Linked DNA regions of Homo sapiens: region 2 is linked to region 1. The links come from fine-mapping of genetic effects on gene expression. A gene starts in region 1. The other region holds a variant in brackets. All regions are shown on one strand. Distances are from middle to middle. Region 1 holds the start of NUFIP2 (nuclear FMR1 interacting protein 2). Region 2 has its middle 23 kb from the start of NUFIP2.

Region 1 (5,379 bases):
CTAATTCCAGTTTCCTCCTCTTTATCCACCCCTTCCAAGACAAGAAATATTTGGAGGAATACCACCTTGAATGGTTCAGCGGTTGCTTCCACATGTAGAGAGAAGTCTGGCAAGAGTATATTAACCTGACCGATGAGATACAATTTTTCAATCTCAACAGTAATATTGCCTTATGCAGCCATAATATGGTAGTATTTTCTCATCTTTTGAACAAGATCTAATGCTAAAAAATCTAGTTATATAGTCCCTAACAGTTTTTAAACTGTTCCAAATCTTTAGGATTAAAACACCTAACTCGTGCGTATGTGTTCACTTCTATTGCATACTATCGGGTCCCTACGAAGTCCCAAAATGGAAAATCTGACATTCTAATTTCAGTCTTCAAGTTACAATCTGCAATAAAAAAGCACTTAGTATTTCTCCAGCTCTCAACAATTCCTTCTATCAAATTTGATACGCTGGGTTTAACATACGCTTTCTTACGCTTCATTTCTCTTCGATTTATAAAGAGCCCTTATTTTTTAAAATCTGCGTGGGTTATAAACTATTAAACTCACTTCTCGTGAAATACTTTCTTACATGACTTTTACCCTCAATTTCTCGTTTATTAAGATTAGTTTGGGGATCAATATCGATTTTAAAATACGAAAAACACCTTTCTTTTTAACACGGAGAGAAGCCTCATCCGAGGCAAGATGGTAGTAGTCTAACCTCATGGATGAGCCACTTGGGTTCACCCTTAAGGACAAGAAAGAGGGGTCAAAAAGCTCGCACTCTTCCCCATCCTAACATTTTTTAAAATCCCTCACCTCAAAGACACTACCCAAGCTCAGAAGGTAAGTGCTGGGTCGGGAGGGGAATGGAACAAGGTTTTTGGATTTTTTTTTTTTTTTTGTAGAAAATGAGCTGCTAGAAGGAAAAGGCCCAAGTGAAAGCCTCAGAGGCGGAGTCGTGAGCGAACCTGGCAGGAGACGAGGTTCCTGTGGCAGAGAAACTCGTGACCGGGGAGCTGGGTTCCCGCTGGGTACCCCACCCGGCCTCAGGCACCGCCTCTACCCGAAATGAATCCCCCCGCCGCCCCCCCAGGCCTCCTGCCTCTAGGAGCGCCGCGGCCGCCGCCCGCGGCCTCCTTCCCTCTCAGCTCCGCTTCGAGGCCGGCTCCCCGCCCCGACTGCCCGCGCCTCCCGCCGCACCCGGGAGCGGGAAACGCGGCCGCTGGCGCGCGGGGCCCTGCGCAGGCCGCTCCCCTCGTGGCCGCTTCCCTCCCCCACCCCAACCGCCCCCGCCCCTCACCCCAGGGACCCGCCCGGGGCCGCGCGCCGCCACCGGGTTACACAACCCCGGCCGGCGACGGGGGGGGGGGCGGCCGCGGTGCGGGGGGCGCCGGCGCCCCCGCAGTGCAGGGGGCGAGGCTGCGGCCGGTGGTGATCCCGGGTCACCCGGCTCCGCCGCCCCGTGTGGCCCTCGACACCCTTCCCCCTCCGCTCCTCAGTGGGCCGGAGTCGGTGACAGGAATCGGCTTCCAACATGGCGGACAGGAAGCGGCCCCGCGAGGAGGAGAGAACATTCCAGCCGCGCCGGCTCTGGGGGGAGCGGGCGCGGGGCGCCGGCCTCGGGAGGAGCCGCGGGACAAGACTGCGGGGTCCGGCGCCCAAAAAGGGCGTTTAGTGGTGGAAATGACCCGTGAGATGAGGGGTCCCAACAGCCCCCCCCACCGAGACGGGGAGCCCCAAGGCCACAGGTGGGCTTGGGGTGGCGGGTGAGGGGCACTTCCTCAACTCACCCTACCTACCCACTCCTCGCCGCCTGCAAAAGGGTCTCGCGACACCATCCGAGTCGGGATTCGCTAGGCCTTCCTGAGTTACACCTCGAGGGATTTTTTGGGGGGGTAGGTTTACCCCATCTCAGGGCCCCCAAATTGAGGTAACTCCAGGGACGCAGGGAGGTGAATGGGAAAAGAATAATGAGGTTGGACTTGCAAGGCCGACCCAGCAGGTCTCCCTTCAGCCGGGGCCGGGGCCAGGAAGGTCACGCTGGCCTGGCTGGGCCTCTCCCATGCTGGAGGGAAGGAGAGGGCGCTGCAAACCCCATTGCTCAGCCCGAGCTCTAGAATGAAAGGGGCATCCCCAGAGCCGGAGGGGACACACACACACACACCCCGACCCCGTCCGCGCTTTTCGGATCCAGCCCCACCCCCATCTCTCCTGTCCTCCACCCCCAACCCCCTTCCCCCACCCGTCCTCCCTCCCAGACCTGTTTTCTTCTTCGGCGTTTCCTGGTGCTGCTGGAGGGTGTGTTTCTGCTCATGTTTCAGCGGCTTTGGCTGGGCCTTGGGGCTGCCCTCGGCTCCATGCTGCAGGTATTGGTGAGGCTGCTGGTGATGATGGTGGTGGTGGTGGTTGTGGCTGTGGTTGTAGAAATAATAATGGTGGTGGTGGTGCGGCTGCTGCTGCTGCTGCTGAGGGTGATGGTGCGGATGGTGGTGGCTGTGATGGTGCTGAGGCTGTGGCTGGCCGGGCTTCTCCTCCATTGAAAGCGGCTGGGACTCCCTGGCTGAGGCTGCGGGCTGCTGCACCGTCAGGATCTGAGACTGCTTCTCAGGGCTCACTCAGTATATCTGAGCGCGTCTCGCCAGCGCACTGGTTAACCGAGCGATTCTGCGAGATTGGCAGCCGCACTCCAACAATCAGGAGCCACGCTGTGCCGCAAGCCCCGCCCCCAGCTCAAATCCTCTTTCCTTCCCCTTCGCCGCTGCCGCCTGGCCAACGCCACTTACCCTGTGCAACCTCACAGGGCCGGGCCTTCAACGTCAGCACTATGGCTCTCTCTTCTGTCGCTTTCTCTCCTTCACCACGCAGTCTGTGAACAGCACTTTCTACACTCCTCGCCGGCAAGCAGGCTCGTGTCGAGGGTAGCAGATTCCACTGGCGATTCCACTGGTGCTGTGAGCCATCTGCTGGCTTTGCACCTCTTAGAATCTGGTGTTTTTTTGTTTTTTGTTTTGTTTTGTTTTTAATCCTTTTCCGGGTAACCAGAAAGGGAAGCTCAATTCCCTTAACCCCGAGACCACTAAAGGGGCAATACAAAAAGAGGAAATAAATACATTTTTAAGCATACAAGAGCTTCACAATCCAGTAGATCATTTTGTATTCTGGATTCATTTTGCTTTGTATTCATATGCTAATCTCTTCCTTTCCACGAAGGGATTATAGGGTTCCACAATGGGGTATCTGTGTAATTTTCTAAAAGGGCACAAAGGGTTTAAATCATTGTTTCTTTGTAGTTGGAGGCAAGGGAGAGCAGGAGGAATGAAAATTTACACTGAAGGTTTTTTTTTTTTTAATTAAACTCTGCAGGTGAGGTCAACTGTGGAACCAAAATAGGTTTTAGAATGAGAAGTTTCAAGAGCAAAGGAAGGGGAGAAAGAGCACTTAAAAGTTATTAAGTGGGTTTGTTTTTTTTTTTTTTGGCACTTATGGAAAAATTGAAATTAAAAGAAATATTCTGTAGCGTTTTGTAGTGTAGATTTAACTTATCCTGCATTACCACATCACAGTATATGATTTTCAAAAGCAAATGTTAGAGCCATGATAGTGGTTACTCAGGAAGGAAGAGGGTTGTGATGGGGAGGGACACAGGTTACTCTGATAATATTTCATTTTGGGGGCTAGGTGGTGATTACATATATTTGCTTAGTAATTATTTGTTAAACTGAATATACAGATAAAATGCACTTTTCCCAATGTATGTTATAGATTGGGGGATTTTTTTAATTGTAAAATATTCATAATATAAAATTTACCATCTTAATATTAAGTGTATGGTTCAGGTGCATTAGGTACATTCGTATTGTTGTAGAACCATGACCATCATCTATCTCCAGAACTTTTTCATCATTCCAAACTGAAACTTCATACCCAATAAAAATAAATGTCCTTTCCCTCCTCCTTCCATCCCTTGATAACCACTGTTCTGTTTTCTGTCTCTACGAACTTGACTATTCTAGGTACCTCATATAAGTGGGATTGTACTGTATTTGTCTTTTTGTGACTAGCTTTTTTGCATAATGTCTTCAGAGTAGCATACATCAGAATTTCCCTCTTTTTTAAGGCTGACTAATATTCCATTATATGTATATACCACATTTTGTTCATTCACTCAGCAACGGACATATGGACTGTTTCCTCAATGTATGTTACGTTTTTGAATTTTTAAAATGTGGCTTGAATTCCTACAACAGGACAACATTAAAGGAACAAGAAGCTTGAAAGCAAAAAGTTTATGCTATGAAATTAATGAATGTCAATGCAAAAGCTTATTTAAAACGTAAAAGCTGGTTTCCAATAACAAATGTCATTGAATCCTGAAAACCATGACCAAATTTTGGCATGTTCTATACAGTAAGGATTTGTGTTGCCTTGTTAAATTTTATTTTATTTTATTTTGAGATGGAGTTTTGTCCTTGTTGCCCAGGCTGGAGTGCAATGGCATGATCTCAGCCCACCGCAACCTCTGCCTCCTGGGTTCAAGCAATTCTCCTGCCTCAGCCTCCTGAGTAGCTGGGATTACAGGCATGCGCCACTGTGCCAGGCTAATTTTGTATTTTTAATAGAGATGGGGTTTCTCCATGTTGGCCAGGCTGGTCTCGAACTCCTGATCTCAGGTGATCTGCCCACCTCAGCCTTCCAAAGTGCTGGGATTCATGAGCCACCAGGCCCAGCCAGCTTTGCTAAATTTTAAAGAAAAACCTCTTTGGGGGTACATTTACCCAATTTTGAGAATGAAAACCCTAATAATAATATCATATCACAATAAGTCTTTACCACTGAATAATATTCTGCCACGTTCCCAATTATTAAAGAAAAAACAGGTCAGGTGTGGTGGCTCACACCTGTAATCCCAACGCTTTGGGAGACCATGGCAGATCAGTTGACCCAGCAGTTCGAGACCAGCCTGGGCAACATACAGAGACTCTCTCTCTACAAAAATTTTTAAAAATTAGCCTGGCATGGTGGTGTGTGCCTGTAGTTGGGAGGCTGAGATGGGAGGATGACTTGAGCCCTCCAGGTGGAGGCTGCAGTGAGCTGTGATTGTGCCACTGTACTCCAGTCTGGGCAACAGAGCGAGATCCTGTCTCAAAAAAAAAAAAAGAAGAAGAAAGAAAGAAAAGTATATATACAATTTAAGATTATGTTGGTATTTTTTGTTGACTTAGACATTCAGTTGGAAGGCTTGAATTTCTGAGTTCCAACTTCCCTGTCTAGGTTTTCTACATTATACCTGCAGGCAAACCAAAAGCACTCATTCTGTATTTCTGATTTATCACACTTTTGCCTACCTTTAGCTTTTCACTTACAGTTGTACTGACTGAGTTTAATA
Region 2 (5,379 bases), 23 kb after region 1:
TTGCTGAATGAGAACTTAAGAATAAAAAAGAACTATAAAAGAGGCTGGGCGTGGTGGCTCACACCTGTAATCCCAGCACTTTGGGAGGCCGAGGCGGGTGGATCACGAGGTCAGGATATCGAGACCATCCTGGCTAACACGGTGAAACCCCGTCTTTACTAAAAATACAAAAAAGTAGCCAGGCGTGGTGGCAGGCACCTGTAGTCCCAGCTACTCGGGAGGCTGAGGCAGGAGAATGGTGTGGACCCAGGAGGCGGAGCTTGCAGTGAGCCGAGATCATGCCACTGCACTCCAGCCTGGGCGACAAAGCGAGACTCCGTCTCAAGACAAAACAAAACAAAAAACAGAAACAAAAAAGAACTATAAAAGGACTTATACATAATAGAACTTTACTTAAATGTCCAAAATAACTTTTGTAAGAAAAAATTGTAATGTAAAAAAAGAAATGTCTTTTTCCAAGAAGAATAATAAAGGTTTAAAAGGACAAACAATATTAATAAAACTGAGCTGGGAGGGTTGGGAGTGGGAGGTAAAGAATGAGGGAAAATAAAAGTATGCTAAATACCCCAATCATACACAGGAGAAATCAAGAGCTGCTGTTTCATTTTAACATTGAAAATAGGTGGGTTTTTTTAAAATTTAAAGGTAGGCACTTTTAGAATAAAACCCAGATGATCATCTTTCGAAGCAGTAGACAGCATTTTAAAAGCAAAGAAAACAGTTCATATAGAAATAGACAAAAGGCCGGGTGCTGTGGCTCACGAGGCCCAGGCGGGTGAATCACGAGGTCAGGAGATCGAGACCATCCTGGCTAACACAGTGAAACCCTGTCTCTACCAAAAATACAAAAACTTAGTTGGGCATGGTGGCACGCACCAGTGGTCCCAGCTACTTGGGAGGCTGAGGCAGGAGAATTGCTTGAACCCGGGAGGTGGAGGCTGCAGTGAGCCGAGATCGCACCACTGCACTCCAGCCTGGGCGACAGCGCGAGACTCTGTCTCAAAAAAAAAAAAAAATTAAGATGATTAAAATAATCTCAAACATCAGAACATCTATTCAATCCAAGCTATACCAGTGTGTGTATGTGTGATAAACAATATCTTATTCATTCATTTATATTCCTTAATCTTATAGATCATAAAGTCATGAAAATTAAGTTAGTAAAACATATGAAATGCTATAAGAGCCGGGTGCGGTGGCTCACACCTGTAATTTCAGCACTTTGGGAGGCTGAGACAAGCGGATTACTTGAGCCCAGGAGTTCCAGACCAGCCCGGGCAACATGGTAAAACCTCATCTCTAGAAAAAAATACAAAAAATTAGCCAGGCATGGTGGTGCATGCCTGTAGTCCCAGCTACTCGGGAGACTTTTTTTTTTTTTTTTTTTTTTTTGGAGAGGGAGTCTCGCTCTGTCGCCCAGGATGGAGTGCAATGGTGTGATCTCTGCTCACTGCAACCTCTGCCTCCCAGGTTCAAGCGATTCTCCTGCCTCAGCCTCCCGAGTAGCTGGGACTACAGGCGCCCGTCACTATACTCAGCTAATTTTTGTATTTTTAGTAGAGATGGGGTTTCACCATGTTTGTCAGGCTGGTCTCTAACTCCCCACCTCAGGTGATCCGCCCACCTTGGCCTCCCAAAATGCTGGGATTACAGGCATGAGCCACCGTGCCGGGCCTACTTGGGAGATTGAGGTGGGAGGATTGCTTGAGCCTAGGAGGTTGAGGCTGCAGTGACCTGTGATTGCACCACTTCACTCTAGCCTAGGTGACAGCGCAAGACCCCATCTCAAAATAAACAAAATTATTTCTATGGTAATTCCAGTTTGATTTAAAACATAGAAATGTACACACAGCTATATAGCATAATGATTGAGATTATAGACTTTTAGATCTAGATTTGCATCTCAGATCTACCATTTACTAATGACATGACCTTAAGCAAATAAATTGATACTCTCAGCCTCCGTTTACTCATTTATAAAGTAAGAATAAAAATATCTTCTCATATAACTATTGAGAGGATTACAAGAGTTAATATGTTTAAAAAGGAAATGAAGTTTCCTGGCATATTCAGTAAATAACTAGTATATCCTTATGTATGTGATAATTTTTTTGAGACAGAGCTTCACTCTGTCACCCAGGCTGGGAGTGCAATGGTGTGATCTCGGCTCACTGCAACCTCTGCCTCCCTGGTTCAAGAGATTCTCGTGCCTCAGCCTCCTGAGTAGCTGGAATTACAGGCATGTGTCACCATGCCCAGCTAATTATTTGTATTTTTAGGAGAGGTGGGGTTTCACCATGTTGGCTAGGCTGGTCTCCAACTCCTGGCCTCAAACAATCCGCCAGCCTTGGCCTCCCAAAGTGCTGGGATTACAGGTGATAACTATCATAAATATATGTGTGCACCTACCCAAACATACACATAGAAATAAGGCTGAGCTGGCCAGGCACGGTGGCTCACACCTGTAATCCCAGCACTTTAAGAGGCCAATGCAGGCAAATTGCTTGAGCACAGGAGTTTGAGACCAGTCTGGGCAACATGGTGAAACTGTGTCTCTACAAACAATGTAAACAATTAGCCAGGCAGCTGGGTGCGGTGGCTTATGCCTGTAATTCCAGCATTTTGGGAGGCCAAGGTAGGTGTATCACTTGAGGTCAGGAGTTTGAGACCAGGCTGGCCAACATGGTGAAACCCCATCTCTACTAAAAATACAAAAATCAGCCAGGCAGGTGGCATGAGCCTGGAATCCCAGCTACTCAGGTGGCTGAGGCATGAGAATCACTTGAACCCTGGAGACGGAAGTTGCAGTGAGCTGAGATGGTGCCACTGCACTCCAGCCTGGGTGATAGAGAGAGACTCTGTCTCAAAAAAAAAAAAAAAAAAAAAAAAATTGGCCAGGCATGGTGGCATGTGCCTGCATTCCCAGCTACTCAGGAGGCTGAGTGGGGAAGATTGCTTGTGCCTAGGAGGTTGAGGCTGCAGTGAGGCATGATTGCACCACTGCACTCTAGCCTGGGTGACAAAGCAAGACCCTGTCTCAAACAAAAAAAAAAAAGAGAGAGCAAGAAAAGAAAAGAAATAAGGCTGAGAGAGACTATACCAAAATGTTAGCAAGGATTATCTCTAATGATGAGATTCTGAGTGATATTTTTTGTTTCTTTCTACTTTTTGCTTCTCCTTCATGCTTTTCTGCAACTTCTAAAATTTCTACAAAGAACATACTTGTTTTTACAATTAGAAAAAATACATTATTAAACTATATAATACAAAGTTTGTAGGATATCAGTACAAATAGAAATATTATTTAGGCCGGTTGC[G/A]GTGGCTCATGCCTATAATCCCAGCACTTTGGGAGCCCAAGGAGGGCAGATCACGAGGTCAGGAGTTCGAGACCAGCCTGGCCAACATAGTGAATCCCTGTCTCTACTAAAAATACAAAAATTAGCCGGGCATGGTGGCACATGCCTGTAGTCCCAGCTACTTGGGAGGCTGAGGCAGGAGAATTGCTTGAATCCGGGATTTGGAAGTTGCAGTGAGCTGAGATGGTGCCACTGCACTCCAGCTTGGGCAACAGAGTAACACTTTGTCTCAAAAAAAAAAAAAAAGAAAGAAAGAAAGAAAAAAGAAAAGAAATATTATGTCCACCCAAAAACAATGCCCACTCTTGGATACCTAAAATGCACAAAATTATCTATAAATGCAGCTGTGTCTTTCATATAGTTTAAGTTCAGTTTTAGCAAAACAAAACAAATGTCTTTTCCTTTGCATGGTGAATGCCTTGGAGTTACTCCAGAATAACATTGAATTATTCACATTGAATGGTGAATGCCTGGAGTTAATCCAGAATAATGTGAAATCAAACTTTATTTCAGTAAGAACCTCTAAGCCTAAAATCCTGTAAACTGAATCAGTCTTGGTACATGTATCTGTTCCAAAAACTAGTCTCCAAATATACAGAGATTAGGGCTTGGCACTAGGAGATTAGATGTGGTAGACAAATGCTACTTGATGGTGAGGGTAGAGATGGGGTGACGGTAGAGGATGCTTAAACCCAACATCAATCATTTAAATATTGTTAGTAACATTTATTTCTACCCCAAGCTATCCTTTACCAGAGTAGCATGTAATAAACAACATTTCATTCATTTATTCATTTATTCTCTCAATTAATATGTATTTAAGAGCCTGCTATACATGCAGCATGCAGCACTGTGTTAGGCATTGCGTTAACATGAAGAACAAAACAGATGGGGGGCTGGGTGCAGTGGCTCACGCCTGTAATCCCAGTACTTTGGGAGGCTGAGGCGGGTGGATCACTTGAGCCCAGCAGTTTGAGACCAGCCTGGGCAACATGGTGAGATCCTACTAAAAATACAAAAAAAAAAAAATAGGCTGGGTGCAGTGTCTCACACCTGTAATCCCAGCACTTTGGGAGCCCGAGGCAGTGGATCACCTGAGGTCATGAATTCTAGATCAGCCTGGCCAACATGTTGAAATCCCACCTCTACTAAAGATACAAAAAATTAGCTGGGCATGGTGGTGGGCACCTGTAATCCCACCTACTCAGGAAGCTGAAGCAGGAGAATCACTTGACCTTGAGAGGTGGAGGCTGCAGTGAGCTAGGATCGTGCCACTGCACTCCAGCCTGGGTGACAGAGATTCCATCTAAAACAAAAACAAAAACAATAACAAAAAGATAGCCAGGTGTGGTGGTGTGGTGGTACACAGCTGTGGTCCCAGATACTCAGGAGGCTAAGGTGAGGTGGGAGGATTGCTGGAGCCCATGGGGTGTGGGTGTGGAAGTTGCAGTGAGCTGAGATCGCGCCACTGCATTCCAGCCTGGGTAAGCGAGAAAGACCCTGTCTCAAAACAAACAAACAAAACAAAACAAAAAACAAAACAAAAAGACAACAACAAAAACAGATGGTATCCCTGCCTACATAGGGCTAAGAGCCTGTTAGAGAAGACAAATACATACACAAATAGACATATAATTGCAAATTGTGATGAGTACTCTGGAGGAAAGTATAAAATACTGTGAAAGAGAATGAGGGAGGTAGGGCAGGAGAGGGATACCTAAACAGTCTCTCTGACATCTCAACCAGGACCCAAAAGATAAGAGTTAGGGGAGGGGCCAGGCACGGTGGCTCATGCCTGTAATCCCAGCACTTTGGGATGCCGAGGCAGGTGGATCACGAGGTCAGGAGTTCAAGACCAGCCTGGCCAAGATGATGAAACCCTGTCTCTACTAAAAATGCAAAAATTGGCCGGGTGTGGTGGTGGGCGCCTGCAATCCCAGCTACTCGGGAGGCTGAGGCAGAGAATTGGTTGAACCTGGGAGGCGGAGGTTGCAGTGAGCCAATACAAAGGCCATTAAGATAG

Evidence for each region. PIP is the estimated chance that this variant, and not a neighbour inherited with it, causes the effect.
Region 2: its variant is the best candidate, but not a certain one, in a credible set for the expression of NUFIP2 in whole blood (INTERVAL, PIP 0.60).

The regions. Positions count from the first base shown.
Region 1 is chr17:29,291,530-29,296,908 of GRCh38, forward strand. It overlaps NUFIP2 (nuclear FMR1 interacting protein 2), which reads right to left and starts at 2,619. Exons shown (of 4, transcript NM_020772.3): 1 at 2,254-2,619. The coding sequence starts at 2,530. RefSeq lists silencers at 1,288-1,467, 2,098-2,217 and enhancers at 1,924-2,684, 2,378-2,477, 2,788-2,987.
Region 2 is chr17:29,314,923-29,320,301 of GRCh38, forward strand. No RefSeq gene overlaps it. Among named protein-coding and RNA genes, the nearest start is that of NUFIP2, 23 kb to the left of the region's middle. The variant G/A (reference allele first, on the strand shown) is at 3,318.